Linked DNA regions of Homo sapiens: all the other regions are linked to region 1. Evidence: fine-mapped expression QTL. A gene starts in region 1. Each other region holds a variant in brackets. All regions are shown on one strand. Distances are between the middles of the regions. Region 1 holds the start of IL36B (interleukin 36 beta). Region 2 has its middle 18 kb from the start of IL36A. Region 3 overlaps IL36B (interleukin 36 beta).

Evidence for each region. PIP is the estimated chance that this variant, and not a neighbour inherited with it, causes the effect. A credible set is the group of variants that fine-mapping cannot tell apart.
Region 2: its variant is the best candidate, but not a certain one, in a credible set for the expression of IL36B in unexposed skin (GTEx, PIP 0.54).
Region 3: its variant is the best candidate, but not a certain one, in a credible set for the expression of IL36B in sun-exposed skin (GTEx, PIP 0.70).

Annotation. Positions count from the first base shown.
Region 1 is chr2:113,050,725-113,054,965 of GRCh38, forward strand. It overlaps IL36B (interleukin 36 beta), which reads right to left and starts at 2,143. Exons shown (of 5, transcript NM_173178.3): 1 at 2,093-2,143.
Region 2 is chr2:113,021,490-113,025,730 of GRCh38, forward strand. It overlaps a transcript of IL36B not described here. Among named protein-coding and RNA genes, the nearest start is that of IL36A, 18 kb to the left of the region's middle. The variant G/C (reference allele first, on the strand shown) is at 2,269.
Region 3 is chr2:113,030,013-113,034,253 of GRCh38, forward strand. IL36B (interleukin 36 beta) reads right to left here. Exons shown (of 5, transcript NM_173178.3): 2 at 1,685-1,754; 3 at 1,036-1,143. The coding sequence starts at 1,697. Among named protein-coding and RNA genes, the nearest start is that of IL36B, 21 kb to the right of the region's middle. RefSeq lists a silencer at 4,080-4,241. The variant C/A (reference allele first, on the strand shown) is at 1,580.

The DNA of each region.
Region 1 (4,241 bases):
AATAATAATAAAAAAAGATAGTTTCTGTTTTTGAGGAGCCCACGAAAGCCACACATCACTGAGAAAGCCGAGGAGAGCTGGGGCTTTCTCAGGGGTAGCCCTGGTGCAGCTCCCTTGCCTCGTCTAGTCCTGCTTTAGATGCTCGCTACTCGGGTGAGGGCTGCAGATCCTTGTGGAAAGAGACAGAAAAAGAGGAAGAGAGCTTGAATTGGAGGCCGTGCCTCTCAGCGTGGCCTCCCGATCCTTGAATCGGAGGCCGTGCCTCTCAGCCTGGCCTCCTGATCCTTGAATCGGAGGCCGTGCCTCTCAGCGTGGCCTCCCGATCCTTGAATCGGAGGCCGTGCCTCTCATCGTGGCCTCCCGACCTAGCCTGGTGGAGAGCGCCCCCTGCCGGTAGATCCTGGCCCGGCACACTGAGAGCGGCAGGCCCCGCCGGAGGGGCCAGCGCAGGACCGGGGAGAATGGAGCTCAGCCAGTGCCTAGCCCTGGGTTTATTTCCAGTTTCCTGCTGGAGAGCAATGGTCAAACTACACAGTCCGGCGGAGGCGAGTCCGCAGGCTCTGGAAGCCTCTGAGGCACAGACGAGGAAAGCGCCTGAATGTGGATCTGGGGTACAGAAGTTGCCGGTGGCTCTGGCCCTGTTCATGGGACTCAGTCAGCAGAAACTGTGGGTGTGACACACACCGGAGCCTCACCTGCCCTGTGGACTGCCCACACTCTCTCTCAGAGCCTCACCTGCCCTGTGGACTGCCCACGCGCTCTCTCAGATCCCGGCCTGTGCACCTGGCCCTTCCCCAGCCTCCCAGGCAGAGGGTGCCACGGGGCTGAGGGCAGGCAACAAAGCCACTGGCCTCTGGCTCAGCACCCAGCTGCAGCCCTGTGGATCCTGGCCCACAGCCTCCCCATGACTTCACTGGCATCCAGGGTTTCTCGAAAGCGCTATGAGCCAAGTGGTACCCTTCCCCTCTGATGTGGCTGGGTTGGAGAGGGAGTCCTGGATGCAGCTGGAGGTCCCCTTCTGCTCACGGCTCCCTGGAGGCTGTGTCTGTGCATGCACACCATCACTCCTACTCCAGGAAGGACTTTCACGGATGTCCTCAGCTACCAAAAGTCACTCCAGGGAGTGATAAATTCCGTCCAACCCAAAGTGTGCCACACTCTGCTATGGGGCACTCCTTTGTCTCTGCACCAACTCTGTTGGTTTCTATTATCTTCTCTCCCTCTCTCCTTTTTTTTTTTTTTGAGACAGAGTCTTGCTCTGTTGCCCAGGATGAAGTGCAGTGACATGATCTCAGGTCACTGCAACTTTCACCTCCTGGGATTCAAGTGATTCTCGTGCCTCAGCCTCCCAAGTAGCTGGGATTACAGGTGTGCACCACTATGCCCAACTAGTTTTTGTATTTTTAGTAGAGACGGGGTTTCTTCATGTTTGCCAGGCTGGTCTTGAACTCCTGGCCTCAAGTGTTCTGCCCGCCTCTACCTCCCAAGGTACTGGGATTACAGGTGCGAGCCACTGCACCTGGCTGGTTTCTATTATCTTCTTAGAAAGCCTGTTGGTCCTTTGTGCAGACTCCTTCATTCCCCCAGCCTCGAGCTCTGCCTTCTATTCCAAATGTGTGAATTTATAAGCATTACACAGCTTATTTTTCATATTGGGGAATGGGTGTGAATTAGTATGAAGTCAAGCTGCAAGAGTACCAATACCAGGTCCATCTCTTACTAGTTTTGTGACCTTAGGTGACTTAGCCTCTCTAATTTTCGTTTTGTCTTATCAGTTAAATGGGAATAAGCATAGCACTTACCTTAGAGGACTGATGTGGGAATGAGGCAACATAATAGCTATATTGCTTTTATCACTGTACCTGACAGAGTGAATGTGTAACAAACGTTAACCTTTCTTGTCAGCAAATTTAAAACCTCACAGCATATTCTGCACTCATTACGCCAGTCTGTTGGAGCTGAGTCCATGCCTTTTTCTCTCTGCGTTGGGAAAGCCATGCTAGCTACATGCATTTTTGGTCATGAACCAGTCTTAGATTTAAGTCAATGTAAATTTGGCCTTTGCCGTGTTCTTAATGTCTTCTTTACATACCTAGGAAAAGTGAAGGAGAGGTGAGAAAGACAGAGTGGGGAGGAACCCGTGTCTGTGGGTTTGTGCTAGATGCCAACCTGGCTCTTCACATCCTCTGTCTCATCCAGTCAAGCAGCCACACTGAGTCCCCCAGCATGAGAACAGCTTCCACAGAGCAGGAGATTCTGGGTCTGAAATGAGGAGAGAGCTCCAGTCCCACCAGTGCCCTAGAGCATACCTCAGAATGCTCCTTTCTCCTGGTGGGATCCGTGGAGTCTGCCTGCTCTTCCAAGGATGCCTCAGCCTTTTAAGTAAGGCCTAGGGAGGGGCCCTGAAACTACCAGGACCTGAGGAGAAGCAGGATTCTCAGCGTGATTTCACACCACCCTAAGCCGCCGGGAATACTTGCTGCTCATTATCTCTCTATTGGAGTCTCATGGAACACATTGTGGGAAGTGCTATAGAATTCTAGGGACATAGTGGGCACCAAGTGAATATCAGTTACTTTAATTATTACTAAATTTATCTCCCTAACAGGAATTTACTATCTTACCATAATAAACTCTGCTTACATTCTCATATAGGTGAATACACCTGCCCTAAGTCATCTCTACAGCAAGAGCAGAGGCCACATCTACCTCCAGGGTTATTGCCATTCTCACAAAGGTGAGGATAAGTCACCACAGGGAACATTGCTTCTCTGCAGGCTGTGACACTTTCCAGGGCATATAAAGCCCATGAAGAACTGAGATGTTTGCTGAGAAGAGAGCATACCCACCGAAGACAGTGGAAAATGAAAAAACAACAGGAGTAGAAACTTCCCAATAGTGATGTCAAACTGTATTAGTTACTAATTGCTGTGTAACAGCAAACCTAGCGACCTAAAACAAACAAAAAAATTATTTAACAAAGACAGAGTCGGGAATAAGAAAACTGGCTTGGCTGGAGGGTTCGGCTCAGGGTGTCTGATTAGGTTGTAGGAAAGATGTCAGCCAAGGTTTCAGTCATCTGAAGGCTTGACTGGGACTGAAGGATCTGTTTGTAAGATTGCTCACTCAGACCATTGGCAGGAAACCACAGTTTCTCACCATGTGGGCTTCTATATAGGGGTGCTTGAATATCCTTATTAGATGGCAGCTGGCTTCATCCAGGTGAGTGTTCTAAGAGCAAGGAGGAAACTGCAATGCCTTTTATGACCTGGTCTCAGAAGTGACATGCTGCCATGTTCACCATGTAACATACTCATTAGAAAAAAGTCACTAAGTCCAGTCCATACTCAAGAGAAGGGCAGTTAAACTTCCTCTCTGTATCAGTCTGTTCTCACACTGCTAATAAAGACATACCTGAGACTGAGTAATTTGTAAAGGAAAGAGATTGAATTGACTCACAGTTCCACATGGCTGAGGTGGCATCACAATCATGATGGAAGATGAAGGAAGAGCAAAGTCACATCTTACATGGCAGGAGGGAAGAGAGCTTGTGTAGGGGAATGCCCCTTTATAAAACCATCAGGTCTCATGAGACTTATTCACTAGAATGAGAATAGCACAGGAAAGACCTGCCCTGATGATTCAGTTACCTCCCACTGGGTCCCTTCCATGACATATGGGAATTATGGGAGCAACAACTCAAGATGAGCTTTGGGTGGGGACACAGCCAAACTATATCATTCCACCCCTGGCTCCTCGCAAATCACATGTCCTCACATTTCAAAACCAATCATGCCTTCCCAACAGTCCCCCAGGGTCTTAACGCATTTCAGCATTAACTCAAAATTCCACAGTCCAAAGTCTCATCTGAGACAAGGCAAGTCTCTTCTGCCTATGAGCTGTAAAATCAAAAGCAAGTTAGTTACTTCCTAAATACAATAGGAGTACAGGCATTTGGTAAGTACAGCTATTCCAAATGGGAGAAATTGGCCAAAACAAAGGGGCTACAGGCCCCATGCAAGTTCAAAATCCAGCGGGGCAGTCAAATCTTAACGCTTCAAAATTACCTCCTTTGAGTCTCTGTCTCACATCCAGGTCATGCTTATGCAAGAGGTGGGTTCCCATAGTCTTTGGAAGCTCCACTCCTGTGACTTTGCAGGGTACAACCCTCCTCCTGGCTGCTTTCATGGGCTGACACTGTCTGTGGCTTTTCCAGGCACACAGCATAAGCTGTTGGTGGA
Region 2 (4,241 bases), 29 kb before region 1:
AAATGCATAAGAAATAGCCAGAGTGACACCAATTCATAACAGTGGTTACCATTGGGGTGGAGAAAGAGGAACTAGGATCTGGGGGGAAAGAATTTGGATTTATCTGGTATATTTTAACTTTATTTCAAGATGAATGTGTCGATGTATTAATAACTGAAAAATTAACGTTTTTAAAAGTGAAAAGTGTAAACAGCATGTGAAGAAAGTAGCTTTAGCAGAGGCTGTGTTTCTCAAATGCTGTGGTCCCCGTTATGTTCTGTATGCTTGAAAATTTTCTGATACAATAGCTAGGTGTTGTTCTGAGCAAATCAGTGGATGAAAGAGTGGATACCCAGGGTGGCTACTCGGTGCCTACAGTAGGAGGCCTAGACTATTACTATTCCATTGTAAGAAACAACTGACTGTCTTTTCCATGGCTATAATCCCTAACTTTTTGTTGCTGCATCTTTTGGGAGAAAAAGACTCACTGGGATCCTATTACATAGGAATGGAAATATATGGTTCTGCCTATGGTAGATAAAGAGCAGCCCACATGGGAGTTAAAGGCAAATGGATGAAGAAAAATAATATACTATAAAAATAATATCATATAGACTTGATTACATGGGAAAAACTAGTTTATTTTACCAGTGTAAGATTATAGAATTTTTAAGAAGAAATGTCTTTCAATTACTTTTAATTGTATGTGTTCCTTTTAAGTTATACATACTAAACAGAGCGTTTCACTCCTCATGCTCTAGTGAATAATTGCACATTATGTAAATAATTTTGAATAATTCTGCTGTTTCTTCCATAGGACTTAACCCCTGTACATCAGGAAAAGAAATAACAGATTGAGCTCTAGTAGCTTGCTGCTCTGTGGGAATTCAGGAGCAATGTTGTCTGATCTTCCCATTTTTCATGAAAACCTTGACTTTACAATTTTTTAAAAAACACTCTAAGGACTGGACAAAACACATTTACAGGTTATGTAGTCCAAATCTACTCCTAAAAAGACTCCGACCTTCTCTAGCTTTACAGGTAAGATTTACCAACTCTTTAAAAATACATAGTGTCCTTGTTTTACAAACTCTCCAGAACCCAAGAAAAGAGAAAAATTTCTGCAACTTATTCCATTTGTAGCATTTCATTGATAGCAAACCCACTCAAAGATTGTAGAGATGGGAATCTTCCTCCCCTTATTTCTACATCCTTCCTGGCATTCCTATGTTGGTCCGCATGGATGAGAAATCTTTGTCCTTCTTCCTGAGATGGTGATGTTGAAAGGAACTCTTCCACTTCTTTCTACCTGCAGGAAAGGAGAAGTATCTCCTAGGCTTAGCAAGATGTGGACATTTGCTAAACCACCAATTGAATAGGGGCTAAAAGGGCAGATTCTACACGGAGGCTCCTGGAGGAGATTGGAGTTTGCCTTCCTCTCAGCCTTACTCACTTGATTCTGCTGAAGAGTGATGGATTATTACAGTGACTGGAGAAAATGAAATTAGAGTTGGTGGGCATGGTTTTTGCCCCAAAAGTCTAGATTGAGGCCCCAGAAGACTAAGAGGCACCCCTCACTTCCCTAATCCAGCTGTAACAATAATAAAGGCACTGCTATGATTTTGATTTTGGCATCAACATAGTTTCTAAATGTTTGAACGTGGATGGCGATTGGAAGGAGGGACTGTTACCTACCAACCTTCAACATTTAATGTCAGTTCCATAAGGATGGCCATATTTTCCCCTTTTTGTTTACTACTATGTCCCCAGCACTTAGAACAGCATAGGTGCTCAAAACATATTTGTTGAATAATTCAGATTATTGATCCTGACACTTCCTTTGAGATAAAAACAAGCTTTGTTGTTTGGGGTTCAAACTACATGGTGAGTTTGGAGAAGACATTGCTAGTGGCTTTGGCCTTGGTCAGTTAGATGTGGCTTTTATTATGGCCACACTGCTATTATAGGCATAGATAAAACTGATTTTAGTGAACTAGAGCTGTAATCTGCAAAATTTAACCTGCTAAACTGTACGAGCAATAGAGAACATCAGTGTATGGTTTTTGATCTTTTGATGGTTGCTATTAGATATTGGGAGGTGGCACTCTGTCAGCTGCACAGTCTTTGCTAGTCTCTGTCTCATTTTTAATTGCATCCTTAGTTAAGGAGACAACCATTAAGGGAATGACATTATGGGTTTCCATGTAGTTTATTCACTTATTTCTGGTGTTACTTCCCAACCATACGGCCTAGAGTTGACTTTGAAGTATTCTTTTTATAATCAGAAAT[G/C]TTCTACTTGTAAGTGACTCAAACTAGTAAGGTAGTTAACTGATCAGTTCTTTAACTGCATATTTATCTCCCCTCCTTTCTTGTTGATAACCCGTGTTGTTTTCTTGCCCCTAATTCACATTAGATCATCAACAACGTTAAAATAAACTTATTGACCTAAGTGAGAGACAAAGATTCTCAGTTGCAAGCTTATAGAGCTTTTTACATTTTCTCTTCTGAAGAATAAAGGAAACTGAAGTGGAGGGAAGGACAGGGCAGATATGCATGCTGATGGAAATTGAAGAGAAAGATGGGTGGAAGCATGTAGGGATCTCTGAAATGGACGTGCATTCATTTAGGTTTCTGAATAGAAGAGATTCAGGGGACAAACTATCTTTGAGTGTCACACGGGTAAACTCCCTCTCTACCACCCTGTGAAAAACCCACCATTCAATAGTCCTGGGCCTGAGGACCGTGACTCTTGCTTAAGAAAGCAACAAAAGCATCAACACCTCCGTGAATATTAGAGTATCTCATAGGCTGGAAAAAAAAGGTCATAGGAACTAGTGCTTCAGAGACTGGAACAGGGGGAATAACACTGTGCTCTTTCTCCATTTATCGATATTCTATTTCGTGTGTGTGTGTTTATGTTGGCCTTATTTTTTCCATACTACAGATAGACAAGGAATTAGCCTACCTCCTTGCAAGGCTTAGGAAACCCACATTGTTTGGGAAGTGCCTTCTGATACTGATTGAACAGAAATCTGTCATCCCGTGCCTTCTCCTGTGGTTCTTAGATTTAAGCAAAGAACATCACAGCTCTCGATCCAGGAGAGCAAATAAAATATTTGAGGACACCTCTTGAGTCTTTCTGTGGTTTCTCCTCCTCTTCTTCCTCCTTCACCATCACAATGTCCTCACTCCTCTGGCAGAGGGCACAGGTGGTGTGATGTAAGATGGGCTGGCTGTCTATCTCTTGCTCATGTTCAGTGCCCTTGGAATAGCTGGGAAGCTGATATTTATAAGCACTGTCCAGGATTACATTGCATTTTTCATCACCATCTTCCTATAGATTCTTTCTGCACATTTAGCTATTTACAGAACTCACATTCTTTGCAGCCCTTCTCAGAAAACCTATGTACTACGTATCCAAGTACATTGTTGCAAGTCTCTCATGGCCATCCTTGAGGCCATTTGTGCTTAGTCATGACCTTGTCAGAGAAAATATTTGCAATGGTGAATTTCCCTGGGCTCCTTCTCTTGTGCCCCTATGCTGTTGTGCATATGCATAAATACATGTGGGGAAAGGCTTGGACAAAATGCAAACCCTCAGACTGTGCACCGAGCCCTCCAAGAGGGAGGCAGAGGATACTGGCTAAAAGCTCCTGGGGATACCCTTGGTTATGTTTCATTTCTGCAGCCATCTCCTCCCGAGTGGATGCCCTTGTATCATCACATTCCCCTGGAGCCATATTGGCATAAGGGGAAGAGGAGGAAGAATTGAGACAGGGAAATTTCTGAGCAGCCTTTCTATGTTTTTCCTCTCCATATTCTGTGAGAAGCTTTCCAGTTCCTTGGACCCTTCTTGAAGTTGAGGACTGCCCTGATATAATGCAAGATTCTCCCTGACACACTTTGGTATTAATGGGAAGATGCTAATACATGAAATGAAAATTAATTTGCTTCAACAGTGCATTCTGAGAAACTGCTAAGAGGGAGGGAAGATTTGGTATCTAAAGGGAGTGCATAAATGAAAGAGACAAATTTCTGCCTCTATGTACCTAGAATTTGGTTGACGAGAAGAGAGCAAATGGGCCAAGACAAGGAGAAGAAGCTATAGCACAAAGCCTAAGAAAATAAATGTTCCATGAGAAGGCAAAAATGCTATGGACCTCGCAGAAGATAAGATGTTGCCTTCGGTTGGGAAGATGAGGAGAGTCCCGTAAAACAGCTGGAAGGGATTTAGGATGTTAGTAAGACATAGGCAGCAATGG
Region 3 (4,241 bases), 21 kb before region 1:
ACGAGGTCAGGGGTTCGAGACCAGCCTGACCAATGTGGTGAAACCCCATCTCTATTAAAAATACAAAAATTAGCTAGGCACAGTGGTGGGCACCTGTAATCCCAGCTACTCAGGAGTCTGAGGCAGGAGAATTGCTTGAAACCTGGGAGGTGGAGGTTACAGAGAGCTGAGATCGTGCCATTGCACTCCAGCCTGGGTGACAGAGTGAGACTCCGTTTAAAAAAAAAAAAGGGAGAAGATGTAGAGTATTCAAGAAGGAAATGGTCCATTACACTAGTGAGCTAAGGGCCAAATAGCATGGGGACCAAGAAGTGTCCTTTGGGTTTGAGTATTTGAAGGTCATGGGTGAAATAGAAGGTTGGGGGGGAGTAGGAAGAGTAATCCAGATGTTAGACTGCAAATTATGCAGCCAGCTCTCGTGAAGTTTTGCTATGATTGGCACAAGAAAATGTGTTAGTAGGAGGAAAATGTGGGAATCAAGAGAAGGTTGCAGCATGTCTGACAATGATAGAAAGGGTCCAGTAAACAAAGGTGGAATTTGCAGGGAAGCGAGGAATTAAACATTGAAGTTCTGGATACAGGGAAAGAAGCTGAGATGGACTGACTTTTGATGGGAGAAAGGAATATTTCCCCATTATTAGAAAAGAGGATGCCAACTTAGAAAGCTGTGTAGGTTTGGTGGTGGAAAGATGACGGAGTTTGAATCTGAGGACACAGGTAGCAATGGTTGGAACCTGAAGGAGAGAAACTCCAAGGAGAAGGTTAGCTGTTGTTTGAATGGATAAGCCCTTCTAATCTGAAGATATTTTCTTTTGGTAAGAGGAGCTGTCAACCCTTCACACCCTCATTTCTAGATATGGGATTTCCTTTGTGGAAGGGAATCATAGTGTCCTTTCTCACTTGACCTTCCTGTGGCTGTTGGGCTGGTGCCTAGAAGTGGGTGAGGTCCAGGGCCAGGCTTATGCAAGCTCAGCCTCATTCCTGGTGAAGATGGCATCACCTCAAGAAGCAACAGTGGGTTTGATTGTCACTCACCAGGCTTAATGCTGCGGCTAAGAGGAGCTGCTATTAAAGAATTTCCACTCAGGACCCACACCATCTGTCGAGAATCACGAATAGCATAGGATTTGGGTGCTGCCTCCCCTGCCAGATGACAAAAATGCACAAAATACACGTGAGGTTATCAACTTCAGGACTCCAGTTGCATCCTGGTATTAATGGCTTTTGAGTTTCTGGAGAGAGTCTCATTGCTCTGAGAAGTAGTGGCTATAACGATAAATGGAGGGGAAATAGGGCAGGGACTAGTTTGTGAATCAAAGCATTTGAAAGGATCTACGTGCAGTCACAGTCCCAAGATTCACCTTTTTCTAGGGCTATTAGTGACTTGTCTTTTTCCGAATGATAAAATGTCTAGGTGGTAAAAAAAACCCCATAATATTTAAATTAGTTATCCATATGTTGTTTTTTAAAATCCTCTCATCAAAATAAACAAGCAATTCTAAATACAGATAATAATAAAAGAGCTAGGTGCCCCGAGATTTTCAAAGGCCGTTTTAGGAACTGAGTGTTTTAGCAAGAG[C/A]AAATACATTTATAGCTTAGCAAATGATAGGGGTCCTTCCATCCTATTGTCTTTGATGAGGTCAGATGGAGATATTTCCAAGCTGATTTGCAATTCACCACTTACGTTGTGGGTTCATGATGTCTTCAGAGCCTTTTGTGAAGAGAACAAGATAGATCAGATGGTGGTGAGGAGGCTGTTAACAGTTGGCCATGTGAGAGAAGGAGAGAAGAAACATGTTATGCTTTTTTCTCCTCTCCCCCTAAAATTTTACTGTAAAAATTCTTTAGAGAGAGCTGCCCTGAGAGCCTCTCCTAGATGCATATTTGAGAATAAGGATGGGTACAGGACATTTCAAGGCCAGAAAACCCTAAAAGGAAGCTCCCATCTCTGCTGTGGCTGGCACAGTCCTGCTTCTCTAGGCTGTGATGGTCTTGGTATGCTTTCCATTAATCACATCTGGGATTGTTAGGAGGTTCCAACACATCACCACGGGCACCTTCTAGTACTCTGAGTCTCTGGGTTGAGAGGAAGGAGGGAGAGACAGAGTGCGTGTGTGTGTCTGTGTGTGTGTGTGTGTGTGTGTGTGTGTGTGTGTGTATCTCCATTTTAGCCCTCCACACAGCAGGTTAATCACCACTTTTCCTGACTTGAAGCTGAACACTCCTAAGTAATTTGTAGCTAACCTGCCTCACTGAGCCCATCTTCTTCCATTCCTCATCCAAAGAGACATCTGTAAGGATCATGCACATGGCCACTGAGGGCCCCACAAGGTGCTTTGACTATTAGGGATCATCTGCCTCTGGTTTTCTAGTTAGGGCACCAGAACAGTCCCCAAGAATATCACAGACACTCCACAATGAGAACCAGTTGTTCACAACCCTCCTTCTCTCAGGATCCTTGATGTGTGATTCAATAGTTGTCCCTACACAGTGGATAAGCAGATCACCAACCTGCACCCTTGTAAGCAGCCCTGGATCCTTCAGTACTCTGTACCTTTGACAAGACTCCCAGAGGCACTTCGAGGCTAAACACAGAGACATGAAAGAAGTTCCCCATACCTGGGTTCTAAGCAGCAGAAGTTACCTTTAGCAAGAGATGCTTTTGTCCCTCGTTTCAAAGTCAAGGCTCTAGTTGCATGTAAGTGGTCTAGCTGCATGAAAAGCTGGTCCAGGACTCCCAGGCCCCTTAATGACCAAGGAAAGAGCATTCTTTCCTGCCCCTGGGTGTGTTCATTTTGGAAAGAAAGCTGATATGGCCCAAAGATCTCTTGAGGCTCTGGAGGACTGACAGTGGAGCAACACAAGCATGACTGGTCTGTGCTTCCTGATTAACAAGAGCAGAGGCAACATCAGAAAACAGCAATGAGGAAATGCGGATTAGGCCAGATGCTGAGTTGAGGAGAGTGCCTTTACTGGTCTTCCTTGGAGGCAGAGGTGTGTCTCCCTTGGAGGCAGAGGTGTGGCTCTCTTGACCCACTAAACTGCATGAAGCCATTGCTGTGTTTGCATCTGATGTTAGGCCAATCACAGTACTCCTTGCAGGAGTTTTACACACCCACCATGTCACATTTATATGGTACAAATATTGAGAGCTTATTCTGTTTCTGCTAAAGTTGTAAGAGCTTTACCTGAGTAACCTTTTAATCTTCACGCTACATTTACTTTTTTTTTGGAGATGGAGTCTCGCTCTCGCTCTGTCGCCAAGCTGGAGTGCAGTGGCACGATCTCGGCTCATGGAAACTTCCGCCTCTCAGGTTCAAGTGATTCTCCTGCCTCAGCCTCCCGAGTAGCTGGAACTACAGGCACCCACTGCCACACTGGGCTAGTTTTTTGTATTTTATATTTCAGTAGAGAAGGGGTTTCACTGTGTTGCCCAGGCTGGTCTCAAACTCCTGAGCTCAGGCAGTCCACCCGCCTCGGCCTCCCAAAGTACTAGGATTACAGGCGTGAGCCACTGCACCCGTCCCACACACAACTCTTTAGGGGCCATTAATTTTATTTCTCATGTAAGAAAACAGCGGCTCTGAGGGATGACAGAATGTACCCAAAGTCATACAGCTACTAAGAAATCTAGCCAAGTTAGAAGCCAAGTCTCTCTATTCTTAATGATTATGTGACATGCCTCCCCTGGGTCATAGTCTCCTGCATACTGCACTAGCCGGAACACAGTCTTGCATTCAGTTGAGGATACTGAAAAATCTATAATGTGTCCAGGAGAGGAGAGGAGAGAACTTGGAGGTCTTGTGGCTTTCTAACTCTGAATTAGGAGTCAGACGCGGCTTCAATGTTGGCTATGAAAGAAAATCATTACTCTTGAAACCGAATATTATTGGTCAGTCCTACTCCCAATCACTCTTTGTGGTTCTGCTCTTGGAAATCCACCATTGACTCTATCTTCTGGAGCATTGCAATAGTCTCCTTGCTTCTGTTCTTACCTCCCTAGAGTCAGATGTCCACCTAGCAGTGACCAGAATCAAAGATGTAAATAAAGTCGTATGACTCTCTTGCACAGAACCCTCTAATAGCTTTGCTTTATGCCCCAAATAACCAAAGCCCTCACCAAGCCCACATGATCTGGGTCCTCTTTATCTTTCTGCTGCCTTCTATCCCTGCCCATCTGACTTCCCTGCTCTGGATGTACTGGATTCTGCTGATTTTCTTGCCCTGCAAGCTTATCTTCG